2 linked regions of the Homo sapiens genome follow. The protein of the gene in region 1 binds, or shares a complex with, the protein of each later gene. Each region holds a gene or a part of one and is shown in the gene's direction. Other genes may lie near its edges.

What was found. Proteins that work in one complex are often made in the same cells at the same time.
Region 2: the proteins of NUDC (region 1) and DNAJB1 are in contact, whole or in part, in a crystal structure (PDB 7NDX), measured with the Homo sapiens proteins. Residues at the interface, in NP_006591.1 of Homo sapiens: Pro102, Gln103, Ile104, Lys105, Glu106, Leu107, Ala112, Leu115, Gln116, Ile119; in NP_006136.1 of Homo sapiens: His166 (codon at 5,539), Lys181 (codon at 5,584), Lys182 (codon at 5,587), Met183 (codon at 5,590), Lys184 (codon at 5,593), Ile185 (codon at 5,596), Ser186 (codon at 5,599), Asp201 (codon at 5,644), Lys202 (codon at 5,647), Ile203 (codon at 5,650), Ile235 (codon at 5,746), Phe237 (codon at 5,752).

The regions. Positions count from the first base shown.
Region 1 is NC_000001.11:26,917,932-26,924,758, forward strand, and holds the start of NUDC (nuclear migration protein nudC), read left to right. Parts: upstream 1-3,811; 5' UTR 3,812-3,917; coding exon 3,918-3,998; intron 3,999-6,157; coding exon 6,158-6,235; intron 6,236-6,827. UniProt on the Homo sapiens protein: Plays a role in neurogenesis and neuronal migration. Necessary for correct formation of mitotic spindles and chromosome separation during mitosis. Necessary for cytokinesis and cell proliferation.
Region 2 is NC_000019.10:14,515,390-14,522,300, reverse strand, and holds the start of DNAJB1 (dnaJ homolog subfamily B member 1), read left to right. Parts: upstream 1-3,903; 5' UTR 3,904-3,951; coding exon 3,952-4,162; intron 4,163-4,363; exon of another isoform or gene 4,364-4,710; intron 4,711-5,254; coding exon 5,255-5,835; intron 5,836-6,130; coding exon 6,131-6,361; 3' UTR 6,362-6,911. UniProt on the Homo sapiens protein: Interacts with HSP70 and can stimulate its ATPase activity. Stimulates the association between HSC70 and HIP. Negatively regulates heat shock-induced HSF1 transcriptional activity during the attenuation and recovery phase period of the heat shock response.

The DNA.
Region 1 (6,827 bases):
AGGGTCACTACTCCCAGTCCTTCCTAGAGCTAATGAATGTGTACACACACACACACACACACACACACATTTACAATTATATTTATTTCTATAATTATACATACTAAACAACATGAATTCAGACTATCATCTCCAATTCCAAGCTCATATCATGGGGTTCATTCTAGTTTTTGCCCCTTGTGTATTTATACTTCCTGTCTTTCACACCGAGGAATCTGGTGTCCATTATTCTTGATTTATCTTTTTTTTTTTTTTTTGAGACAGGGTCATGCTGTATCCCCCAGCTGCTGGAGCGCAGTGGAGTGATCTTGACTCACTGCAACCTCTGCCTCAGGGTTCAAGTGATTCTTTTTTTTTTTTTTTTTTTTGAGACGGAGTCTCACTGTCACCCAGGCCCAGAGGCCCAATCTCGGCTCACTGCAACCTCCGCCTCCCAGGTTCAAACAATTCTCCTGCCTCAGCCTCCTGAGTAGCTGGGACTACAGGCGCCTGCCACCAAGCCCAGCTGATTTTTCGTATTTTTTAGTAGAGATGGGGTTTTACCATTTTGGCCAGGCTGGTCTCGAACTCCTGACCTCATGATCTGCCCGCCTTGGCCTCCCAAAGTGCTGAGATTACAGGCATGAGCCACCGCACCCAGCTTTTTTTTTTTTTTTTTTTGAGATGGAGTTTTGCTCTTCTTGCCCAGGCTGGCGTGCAATGGCACAATCTCGGCTCGCTACAACTTCCACCTCCCAGATTCAAGAGATTCTCCTGCCTCGGCCTCCCAAGTAGCTGGGATTACAGGTTCCCACCACTATGCCTGGCTAAGTTTTTGTATTTTTAGTAGAGATGGGGTTTCACCATGTTAGGCAGGCTGGTCTCGAACTCCCGACCTCAGGTGATCCACCTGCCTCAGCCTCCCAAAGTGATAAGATTACAGGCGTGAGCCACTGCACCCAGCCTAAGTGATTCTTCTACCTCAGCCTCCCGTGTAGCTGGGATTACAGGCGCACACCACCACACCCAACTAATCTTTGTATTTTTAGTAGAGATGGTGTTTCACCATGTTGGCCGGGCTGCTCTTGAACTCTGGGCCTCAAGTGATCCACTTGCCTCGGCCTCCTAAAGTGCTGGGATTACAGGCATGAAATACCACATCCAGCTACTTTTTTTTTTTTTCCTTTGTTTGAGACAGGGTCTGGCTTTGTCACCCACGCTGAAGTGCAGTGGCGTGATCACAGCTCACTGCAGCCTTGACCTCCCAGGCTCAAGTGATTCTCCCATCTCAGCCTTCTGAGTAGCTGGGATTACAGGCTCCCACTGCCATGCCCCGCTAATTTTTTTTTTTATACTTTGAGTTCTAGGGTACATGTGCACAACGTGCAGGTTTGTTACATATGTATACATGTGCCATGTTGGTGTGCTGCACCCATCAACTCGTTATTTAACTCCGCTAATTTTTAAATTGTTTTGTAGAGACAGGGTTTTGCTGTGTTGCTATGTTTTGCAAGTGTTGGGATTACAGGCATGAGCCTCCGCAGTCGGCCTGGATCTGCTTCTTGTTCCACACATAAACTTGTTTCTTTCACTGCTCACATACTTCCAGTTGTCCTGGGAATCATTTATATTGGGATAAGACTTCTGATCCTGTACAGCAAGGGTCATGAGGTACAGCAAATGGTAGGAATATTCCTGGAAGCCCTTTCCACACACCAGGACAGCTCACAATGACTTAACTATACACAAAAGTGACTGCCAGCCACCCAGCTATATCCCACCAAATCAATCCAAACTGAGTGTATTTCCAACTCAACTTCACCTTAGCTGGATCACCAAATCCTCATGGCATCTCTGATATCACCTGATTCAAGGGAAAGTGAGATAGAGTGGGAAGAAATAGTAGTCTTAACCAATTGCAATTTTAGAATTTTGCTTTTGCATGTTAAAAGAAAAAAAAATATGTATTTGACGCTATGAAGACATTGCTGGGGTTGCTCCCAGTGCCTAGGATGGGCCCGTGCAAGTGCAAGGCCCTGCCCTCAAGAGCCCTCAGTCTGAGGGAGAAGACACAGATCAACTCCAGGAATCTCTAATCTAAAGGGAGAAGTCTCTAGTCTGAAGTGGGGAACACGCAATTCCAACCAAAAGAGAAACCTAAAGGAAAAAAGGAAAGAAGAAGGCGTCAACTGTGTCAAATGCACCTGAGAAGTTGAGTAAGATAATAGTGGTTCATTGGCTTTGGCAATATGTAGCACTGTAACCATATCAGAGCCTTTAAAAAATAGACTAGAACAGGCCGGGCGCAGTGGCTCATGCCTGTAATCCTAGCGCGTTGCGAGGCCGAGGCAGGTGGATCACTTGAGGTCAGGAGTTTGAAACGAGCCTGGCCAACATGGTGAAAACCCCTCTACTAAAAATACAAAAAAAAATTAGTTAGGCGTAGTGGTGCCTGTAATCCCAGCTACTTGGGAGGCTGAGAATCACTTAAACCTGGGAGGCAGAGGTTGCAGTGAGCTGAGATCGTGTCACTGCACTCCAGCCTGGGCAACAGAGTGAGACTTGGTCTAAAAAAAAAAAGAAGAATAGATAGACTAGAATATACTGTAGAGAGATGGGAGGTGAGGGAGTAGAAAAACAAGCAAACAAGTTTGCTGCAAATGAGAGCTGAAAATTGGAGAGGTAGCAGCAGAAGAAAGTGGGGCCATGGAATAATAATATAAAAACAGGGCTGGGCATGGTGGCTCACACCTGTAATCCCAGCACTTTGAGAGGCTGAGGCAGGAGGAGTGCTTGAGACCAGGGTTTGAGACTTAGCCTGGGCAACACAGACTCCATCTCTACCAAAAAACAAAAAACAAAAAACAAAAAAAAAAAAACAGCAGGGCGTGGTGATGTGAGCCTGTAGTCCCAGCTACTCTGGAGGCTGAAGTGGGGAAGATGGCTTGAGTCCAGGAGTTCAAGGCTGCCGTAAGCCAAGATGGTGCCACTGCACTCCAGCTTGGGTGACAATGCAAGAACCCCATCTCTAAAAACAAACAAAAAGATATTAAAGCGTGTTTGTAAATTGAAGGGAAGAAGAAAGATATTTGTGATGCATAAGCTAAAAAAAGGGATAATTAACAGGGATAGAGTTCCTGAAAAGACTAAGATGATGAGATTCATTGCACAAGTGGAGGGATTAGCTTGGATGGCTGGGTCCTGTCCCCGCATTAACAGAAGTGAAGGTCAATTTCAGCACCTGTCATAATTTCCTGGGCCCAGTGCAAAATGAAAATGTGGGTCTCCTTATTCCAAAATTATTAAGAATTTCAAGACTATAACAGAAGGCCATGAAATCAAGCGTGGAGCCTTTCTAAGCCTGGGTGCTGTGCGACTGCAATTTGTACTCCCATGAAGCTGGCCCTAGTCAAGTACGCAGTGAGGTCGATGAGGAGGAGGCTGTCCTGTGGTAAGTCCCTTCTAGGATTGGAAGAGATGAGTAAGGCTACTTTCAGCTTCACTGCTCTACAAGCTGGGGGGGTCGCTAGCAAGGGAGAGGGGCAAAACTTGTCCCTTTTTAACTTCCAACCCTGCCAGATTTGAGTCCAGGGCTTTCTAGAAGTCTCCACGGCATCGGGTGACCATAGCAACTCATGCCAAACTCTCGGGCCCACGGCTCCGCCTACCGCTTCGTGGACGCGCTTGTTGATTGGCTCCGAATGTCGACCAATGGTCGGCGAAGCGGGTTGCTTGCCGCACGGTCAATGGCCGCAAACCGGGAGGAAGGCGGGAAGAGAGGAGGTGGAGGCGGGCCTGGGCAGCCGCGCGCGTGCGTGTTTCCGGCTCCGCTGCGGAAGGCGGACGACTAGAGTCGTTGGGCCCGGCGCGACCCGCAGGAGCGTAGAGAGCGCGGGACTAGAGTGCAGAGCTCCGGGACGTGGATCGGAGCCGGCGCGATGGGCGGAGAGCAGGAGGAGGAGCGGTTCGACGGCATGTTGCTGGCCATGGCTCAGCAGCACGAGGGCGGCGTGCAGGAGGTAACGGCCCGCGCGGCGTCGGCCCACCCGGCGGCCTTGGCCACGCTCCTTCCGCCCTTCTCTGCCTTCGAGGGCTGAGACCCACCCCAGCGGCTCGCGGGCTTCTGGGATGCCCCTACATTCTCACTGCGCCCAGCTTCCGGCCTGGCCACCCGCCAGCAGGTCTCACCCGGTTCGCATCAGTCCCGGGCCCCCGGCGCCCCTCAGTAGTAGCAAATTATCGCATCCCTGAGCTTAGGATCCCCCTTTAGTTTCACATATGCCCCCACCCCCGTTTCCACTTTGATGGCGGCTTCCAAGGAGCATCCCTTAGTAAGAACCGTCGCAAATATCGTGATTTGGATCCACCAAGGCTTGGGGCGAGCCGTCGAATGTGTGTGGTAGGGGAGCGGGCTGATGTTAGCACGTGGTCTTGTTAGGCCTTGAATGGGGGAATAGGAGGCCTGTGTTCACGATTAGTTTCCACCACCTACCAACTTGGAACCTTTACATCTCTCCAAGCCTGAGTTTCCTTATCTGTGAGACAGCTGCGAATACCGGTTTCCAGAGAGTAGTTAAGAACCGTAAGTTCTCAGTAATAAGGCTTTTTCATTCAACAAGTATTTGTCGTGTGATTGATGTGTGTCCCACACTCGACAATAAGGGCCAACTGTTACAGATTCTGGAGTTGGTTTTTTTGGAACAAACACAAAGTTAACGGTAGAAAAGTCTGTCAGGATCAGAACTCTCATTCTCAGAGCCAGAGAAGTGGCAAGGATTTGCCTAGATCATGCAACATGGTTCTCACCTAGACAGGTCAGTGTGCTTCCCAGAGTCCATGGCTGATTGTGTCTTACTGGAGGTAGGTTTCCATTGAACTTTCTATTCCTATGTAACCTAGGTGTCTGGTGACCAAGGACTTCTAAGCCCTTTGTGGTGGGGAGAGTGTTTCTCATTTGCAAGTGTGAAAAGCCTTCCTGTCTCCATTCCTCTAAACTGTTCGCACAAAACTGGATTTGGGAGCGAGTTCATTTTTGAGCAAATTGAAAAACTGTCTAGAAGCAAGAACGGAAACCATTGAGATATGTTCTAGCATCAGATTTAATCAGATTTAGACCCACTCTTGGGCAAATAAAGGGTTTGTGTGTGCTGACCTTGAGTCACCACTAGATTGTTTCATTCAGCAAGAATTTTACTGATTATGTACCTTTAGCCATATCTGGTGCCCAGCATTGCAGGTGGCAGACAGACTAAGCCATGGTTCATGGTTCCTATTTGTAAGGTGTTTACCCTCTGCCAGTGGGTCTCTTGCTCTGTGCCATACATTGCTAAAGGCCTCACCTCCTTGACCTCATGATCCTCACCAGGTCCCTAGAAATAGGTACTGCATCTTATTCCTGTTGTACAGAGTTAAGAAACTTCTGCAAAGTCAAAAGGTAATATATGTCCATCTGATACTCAAACCGTTGGCTACACTTGTACTCCAGCCAGAATTAATCCATCTTATCCTCCTTTGAAGTGGCTTCATTTGCTCTCCTCCTTCTTGCTTTGACCCGGTAACTTAGCCAGTGTCTTTTTTTTTGTTTAGACAAGAGTCTCTCACCCAGGCTGGAGTGCGGTGGCACGATCTTGGCTCACTGCAACCTCTGCTTCCCGGGTTCAAGTGATTCTCTGCCTCAGCCTCCCAAGTAGCTGGGATTACAGGTGCCCACCACCTGTAATCTAGCTAATTTTTGTGTTTTTAGTAGAGACGGGGTTTCACCATGTTGGCCAGGCTGGTCTTGAACTCCTGACCTCAAGTGACCCGCCCACCTGAGCCTCCTGAAGTACTGGGATTATAGGTGTGAGCCAGTGTCTTGATGGGCTTTTTACTTTCTGGAGAGGAAAGCTGGGCCCAGGCTTTTCATGCCCTGGATGCAGAGGAGTGTTCCATACGCTTAGGCTGCTTCTAGCATCACAAGGAAAGTGAAAGGCGCACACACACACAGGATATGAGAAATCTGCTTCATGGTGGAAGTGACTAAGAGAACCTGCTGGGGAGATAATCTCCTCAGTTGGGAAGCTCAGAGGAAAAATAGTCAAGTCCCAAGTTCCCTCCTAGACAAAACAAGTTGACTTGTGTGCAGTTGAAGGGCTCCCAAATGCAGCTCTACTACTTTAATCTTCTCCCCCTCTTTCAGCTTGTGAACACCTTCTTCAGCTTCCTTCGACGCAAAACAGACTTTTTCATTGGAGGAGAAGAAGGGATGGCAGAGAAGGTAAGTGTTGGAAACCACTGTCCTTTGGGCGGCTCTGTCTCTTCAGAAGAAAAGCTCACCTGGCCTTTCTTTGGCATAATAGTAACTTTCAGCAGAAGCGAAATGCCAAAGGTGAGGAATTGGGGAAGGGAAGGAAGCTGTCATTTCTTCAAGCTCCACTCCTTGCTCAGCCCTCTATCTACCTTATTTCCCATGACTTTTGCAGTTCTACAAGAGGGGCAGGTGTTAACTATCCCCATTGAGGAAATTGGCTCAAGAGAATTTTGCACCTTATCCAAAGTCTTGAGCTGAGCTGTGGGAGAACCAGGGTTGAAACCAGTCTGTTGTAAACCTGTCCTCTGCCCCGACACAGTGCCTCTCAGTTCCTTTTCCAATGAGGAGGTTTTATTTATTTATTTATTTTCTGAGACAGAGTCTTGCTTTGTCACCCAAGCTGAAGCGCAGTGGCGCAATGTCGGCTCACTGCAACTTTCGCCTCCTGGGTTCAAGCAATTCTCCTGCCTCAGCCTCCTGAGTAAGTGGGATTACAGGCGCCCGCCACCACACCTGGCTAATTTTTGTATTTTGATAGAGACGAGGTTTCATCATATTG
Region 2 (6,911 bases), on another chromosome or scaffold:
TGAGGCCCGCTTACATCCTCACATCCTTGAGGGTCATGTCCTGTTTTTAAAGTCAAGCAACTGTAGACGTGCTAACCTAACCGCATCAACATAATAACTTCACAGCAACACCTAGATTAGTGTTTAGTTGAATAACTAGGTTCTAGAGCTTAGCCACGCTGACACAACAAACAACTATAACAGCTTTTCCAAGTTAAGAGCCCAATATCTGCTGAAGTTGACGCAGAGGCCATTTTTTCAGTAATATTCTGAAGTTCTCAGTGAGTGTTCAGGTCACAGTACCATGTCCATTAGGAGAGAGTTACTGGGTTTGTTTGTTTGTTTAATTTCCTGGCTCCTAGAACTGATTAAAAAAAAAAAAATTAAAACTTCCCGAACTGGCTGGGCGTGGTGGCTCACGCCTGTAATCCCAGCACCTTGGGAGATCAAGGCGTGTTGATCACCTGAGGTCAGGAGTTCAAGACCAGCCTGGCCAACATGGTGAAACCCCATCTCTACTAAAACTACAAAAATTAGCCAGGCATGGTCGCAAGCACCTGTAGTCCTAGCTACTTGGGAGGCTAAGGCAGGAGAATCACTTGAACCCAGGAGGCGGAGGTTGCAGTGAGCTGAGATCGTGCCACTGCACTCCAGCCTGGGCTACAAGAGTGAAACTCCATCTCAAAACAAACAAACAAAACTTCCTGAACATGACCCAGGCTTACTCAAGGAGGGGAGAGTTCCCAGCTCTAACACTGACCCCAAGCACAAAGACATCCCTTCCGCAGTGTTTTTAGCAAAATGTTCCCCTCCAGTGTGTCAAGAAACTTTTATTATTATTATTATTATTATTATTATTATTATTTTGAAACTCTCACTCTGTCACCCAGTCTGGAGCACAGTGGCACGATCTTGGCTCACTGCAACCTCTGCCTCTCGGGTTGAAGCGAGTCTCATGCCTCAGCCTCCAGCGTAGCTGGGATTACAGGCACCTGCCACCGCACCCGACTAATTTTTGTATTTTTAGTAGAGACGGGGTTTCACCACGTTGGCCAGACTGGTCTCGAACTCCTGACCTCAGGTGATCCACCTGCCTCAGCCTCCCAAAGTGCTGGGATTATAGGCGTTGAGTCACCGTGCCTGGCCTATGGCAAGAAACTTTAGAACAACCAGAAAGGCCCACCCAGAGCCATGTTAAAGCCTTTGGAGGCTGCTGCACTTGTAATTCTAAATTAAATTTATATTATAAAATACTAGTTTATAAAGTCACAAGCTCTGAGTTTTTCCCCATAATGCTCCTGATAGTTATTTATATAATTTTTTTATGGGGAGGTTCAGGATCTCACTGTCATCCAGGCTGGAGAGCAGTGGCACAATCATAGCTGACTGCAGCCTCAAATTCCTGGGCTCAAGCTATCCTCCTACCTTGGTCCACTGAGTAGCTGGGACTACAGGCTCACATCATTGCACCCGGCTAATTTTTTTTATTTTTAATTTTTTGTATAGATGGGGTCTCACTATGTTGCCCAGGCTGGAACTCCTGGCCTCAAAAGATCCTCCCACCTCACCTTCCCAGAATGCTGGGATGACAGGCGTGAGCCACTGTGCCCAGCCTAGTAACTTTTTAAAAAATATCAAGTTCTCTCTCCCCATAATTGCTTCAGGACCCCTGCTCAAGTATGGTTCTCGATGTCTAGGGAATTTCAGCCCCATCCTCCCGGGTTGTCCAGTTCTAGTCCAGAGTTCTTGCTGATGCAGTTACCTCAGAGATCATTGAGTGGGCCAAGAGAACCAGATCTGCCTGCTGGATGCTCCTGATAGTTATTTATGTAACTATCCGCCATGATGCTCCTGATAGTTATTTATGTAACTTTTTTATGGGGAGGCTGAGGGTCTCACTGTCACCCAGGCTGGAGTGCAGTGGCACAATCATAGCTGCCTGCAGCCTCAAATTCCTGGGCTCAAGAGATCCTCCCGCCTCAGGAGGCAGGAGGATGGTCTTCTTCTTCAGGAGTCCCTGTCTGCCCAGGGGCAGCTGTCACTGGAATCTTTTAGCTGCCAGGAATGAGGTGATGGCTGAAGAGCCCACCACTAAGAAAATGGTTAGTCACCCCTTTGACAATGCTTCCTTTGTGCCATGCCTGCTCTGAGCACTTTGCAAATGTTGACTCATATAAACTTCAAAGCCCTCATGATGTGGGCACAACTGCTATCCTCATTCCTCATTGTGCAGATGAGGAAGCTAAGGCCAGCAAAGGCCTAGTAACTAACCCAAGGTTACCCAGCCGGGAAATGCTGGAGCTGGGAATGAAGCCCAGCTGTCTGGTTCCAGAGCCAGTGTTACATGGCTCTGACCTCCCAGGCAGTTCTTCCAGGAACCTCCCCCACTTCCCTGGGCCCTTCCCAGGTGGAACCCCTTTCTGAGCCTCCTTTTCCCATCAGCTCTGTCCTTGACAGAGGCACCCCAGACTTTCAGAGCCAAACGCGATCGTGTTGCCTACAATTGAGGAAACAGAGGCCTTGAAAGGTGTGTGACACACCTATGTCCCCCCAAATTATAAAGGTAGTTGGGGAAGAAAAAGAAGCACGTGTGTAAGAACGGGGAATATTTATGAGGTTCTCACTGCGTTCCAGGCACTGGGGACCCAGTGCAGACAGGACCTGGCCCCTGCCCAGGTGGCGATGTCAGACTGGGAGGGAAGACACATTGAAAGCCAAGAGACAAGATAAATTTCAAATTTAGCGGCAAGTGATCTTGAGAGGGCAGTAAAGGGAAGAAGGCGGGACTGGGAGGACCTTGGGAGATGCGCTTCCGTCCAGATCCTCACCTTGCTTTAGGAGGTGAGAACAGAGGCAGTCTTCCGTCCCAAAATCCTTCTCCCCACGGTTGGGAGAATAGCGCTGGTGGGTTTTTTGTTCATTTTACTTTATTTTACTTATTTTATTTATTTATGAGACGGAGTCTCGCTCTGTTGCCGAGGCTGGAGTGCAACGGCCGGATCTCGGCTCACTGCAACCTCCGCCTCCCCGATTCAAGCTATTCTCAGGCCTCAATCTCCTGAGTAGCTGGGATTACAGGTTCGTGCCACCAACGCCCGGGTAATTTTTATATTTTTAGCAGAGATGGGGTTTCACCATGTTGGCCAGGCTGGTCTCGAACTCCTGACCTCAAGTGATCCGCCCGCCTCGGCCTCCCAAAATGCTGGGATTACAGGCGTGAGCCACCGCGCCCGGCCTGTTTGTTAATCTTAAATAGAAACGGAGTCTCCTTATGTTGCCTAGGCTGGTCTCCAACTCCTAGGCTCAAGAGATCCTCCTGTCTTGGCCTCAGGAAGTGATGGGATTACAGGCATGAGGCTCCGCGCCCGGCCTGATAGGTTCTCTTATTGCCATGTTGTAGATAGAAGGGGGCCCCTGGGTTAGGCAGACACAGGTTAGGTAGTTCGTCCGGCGTCACCGGGCGGGAGCCCACCGCAGGCCCCACGAGACAAGGGCGAGCAGGTTCATCGCCTCCCGGGGAAAGGACTGGGTAGTCCCAGGCCCCACCCCTTCCTGGAACAGCAAGTTCGCTGTGGGTCCCGACCTACTGACCCAGGCGGAGGGCGGGACGCAGGGTAGCTGGGGCCGCGTAGAGAGGGAAAGAAGGTCGCGATTGGCTCGTCCCGAAAGGTGGGCGGGGCCTCCTCCGACCTGTGCGCGCGCGCCGCGGGGAGGTGTTGCCGAGGGCGGAGCGGGAGGGGGCGTGGCCCCGCGCGGGCGGCCGTTGACGGCGAGGCCCCGCCCCGGATGTCGCGTGTCGCTGAAAGGGCGGCGGCGATTGGCCGGCGCCGCGGGGGCGGGCGGGGCGGAAGGTTCTGGAGGGGGCTGGCGGGCTCTGGAAGCTTCCGCCGGACGGGTATATAGAGTCCGGGACTGGTCGGCGGCGGAGCCGGGGGACGGCGACAGCGGGTCGGCGGGCCGCAGGAGGGGGTCATGGGTAAAGACTACTACCAGACGTTGGGCCTGGCCCGCGGCGCGTCGGACGAGGAGATCAAGCGGGCCTACCGCCGCCAGGCGCTGCGCTACCACCCGGACAAGAACAAGGAGCCCGGCGCCGAGGAGAAGTTCAAGGAGATCGCTGAGGCCTACGACGTGCTCAGCGACCCGCGCAAGCGCGAGATCTTCGACCGCTACGGGGAGGAAGGTGTGTGCTCGCGGCCAGGGGCGCGGCCCCGCCTTTTGACAGACAGGGAAACTGAGGCACGCTGGCCCCTCTCGGCGGCCCCCCGGGAAGGACGCCCCGGGCCGTGGGGCCGAGCTGCCCCGCCCTCCGGCCTCGCGGGCCTCCGCCCTCGGATTGGCGGCCGCGCGGTGGGAGGAGGAGCCTTGGCCCAGCCGCTCGGCCAGAAGCTTCTAGCATGTCTGGGGCTGCCCCTCCCCGGGCGCCTCCTCCCGCGGCCCCGAGCAGCCCCGGGGTGCGGTGCATGGGGGTGGGGGAGCCGGGGGTGACGACGGGGACGGCGCGGCGGAGCCCGCTGCGGACCCGGGCTCACCTGGGCTCGGCCGCCGGGGTCCGCGGGGCGGCGCCTCCGGCTCAGCTGCGGGGCGAGGGGTTGTGAATGCAGGAGCCGACCCCGTTCGTGGGCTTGGGGGCTGGGTTGGGATAATTCCCGGGAAGTGATGACCTGGCCCCGGCAGGGCACGCAGGAGGCAGCGGCCGCCCAGGTCCGGAGAGCGGGGCCGCCTCGGAGGGTAAGGAGAGCAGGGCTTTTTGTTCCTGTGCCCGTTGATGATTCAGGCTGGCTTCTGGGCTTGATCTGGAGCTGACTTTTTGTGCAAGGATGGTGGCAGTGAATGCTAATGTGTGAGGATTTAAAAACTCCCTATTTATTTTTGTTTTTTTTTTTCTTCTCTTCCTACGCACCATTAGCCCTAAAACGTTGAGAGTAAACACTTACCGAAAGCCGACCCTGGACCATGTGTCTTTAGCCATCTCTTGGTGATGTTGCCAGGAGGATGGGTCAGTCCAGGAGTGGCAGGGCCTAGGTGGCACCTGGAGGTGAACACCTAACCGCATGAGTCCTTTTCCACTGTCAGGCTACGCGGAAATACTGTTGGTAGGGGGGCGTCTCTGCTGTTGGCAGTGAGAGGTAGAAACTTGGGGTTCTTCCTTGCTCTCCCCTGACAGACAAAAAAGTTCCTCCCCCATGGCTTCCAAGCTGTTTCCCCCTGTAAGGGAAGCTCGAGAGAGAGTCTGCTGTTCAGCCATCTGACTGCTTCTAAATCTGCTTTTCAGGCCTAAAGGGGAGTGGCCCCAGTGGCGGTAGCGGCGGTGGTGCCAATGGTACCTCTTTCAGCTACACATTCCATGGAGACCCTCATGCCATGTTTGCTGAGTTCTTCGGTGGCAGAAATCCCTTTGACACCTTTTTTGGGCAGCGGAACGGGGAGGAAGGCATGGACATTGATGACCCATTCTCTGGCTTCCCTATGGGCATGGGTGGCTTCACCAACGTGAACTTTGGCCGCTCCCGCTCTGCCCAAGAGCCCGCCCGAAAGAAGCAAGATCCCCCAGTCACCCACGACCTTCGAGTCTCCCTTGAAGAGATCTACAGCGGCTGTACCAAGAAGATGAAAATCTCCCACAAGCGGCTAAACCCCGACGGAAAGAGCATTCGAAACGAAGACAAAATATTGACCATCGAAGTGAAGAAGGGGTGGAAAGAAGGAACCAAAATCACTTTCCCCAAGGAAGGAGACCAGACCTCCAACAACATTCCAGCTGATATCGTCTTTGTTTTAAAGGACAAGCCCCACAATATCTTTAAGAGAGATGGCTCTGATGTCATTTATCCTGCCAGGATCAGCCTCCGGGAGGTAAGGTGCCAGGTGGGGCGGTGTCTGTAGAGGGCGATGGCTGCTTTTTGAAGCAGTTTAGTATTTGCTGAACCAATGTGTTGGGGTGTGTGGTGCGTGCCAGGCTTGGGGCACAACAGTGAACAGGACTGACCAGGGCGCTGTTGTGGAGCTTTCGTGGTGGGGACGTGTAGATTTGGGGGCCAGGTCTTAGCTGCAGAGGCCTGATGGGTCTTATCTATGGCAGACGGCCTCTGGGCAAGAGCTGAGCCTCTTGAGCCAGCTTCCATCTAATGCTGTCCTTTTGCTTTTCAAGGCTCTGTGTGGCTGCACAGTGAACGTCCCCACTCTGGACGGCAGGACGATACCCGTCGTATTCAAAGATGTTATCAGGCCTGGCATGCGGCGAAAAGTTCCTGGAGAAGGCCTCCCCCTCCCCAAAACACCCGAGAAACGTGGGGACCTCATTATTGAGTTTGAAGTGATCTTCCCCGAAAGGATTCCCCAGACATCAAGAACCGTACTTGAGCAGGTTCTTCCAATATAGCTATCTGAGCTCCCCAAGGACTGACCAGGGACCTTTCCAGAGCTCAAGGATTTCTGGACCTTTCTACCAGTTGTGGACCATGAGAGGGTGGGAGGGCCCAGGGAGGGCTTTCGTACTGCTGAATGTTTTCCAGAGCATATATTACAATCTTTCAAAGTCGCACACTAGACTTCAGTGGTTTTTCGAGCTATAGGGCATCAGGTGGTGGGAACAGCAGGAAAAGGCATTCCAGTCTGCCCCACTGGGTCTGGCAGCCCTCCCGGGATGGGCCCACATCCACCTCCAGTCCCTGGCCAGGGGTGAGAGGCAGACCAGCAGATGGACTTGATCCCTCTGTGTCTTTTTGCTTCTGGCTGGTAGATAATGTCAACCTGCAGTCTTGATTCCCAGACCCTGTACACTCCTCCTTTTCTGTTGTGTGATCAGTTTGTGCTTTATTCTGTATTTGTCTCCCATGTCTTGCTCTTCTCCTGGAGAATTCTGTCTTCTCTTTGGCCATCTCAAATTGAGAACCTAAACTATTCCTGCAGAACTGCCTGGTTGGCGTCCA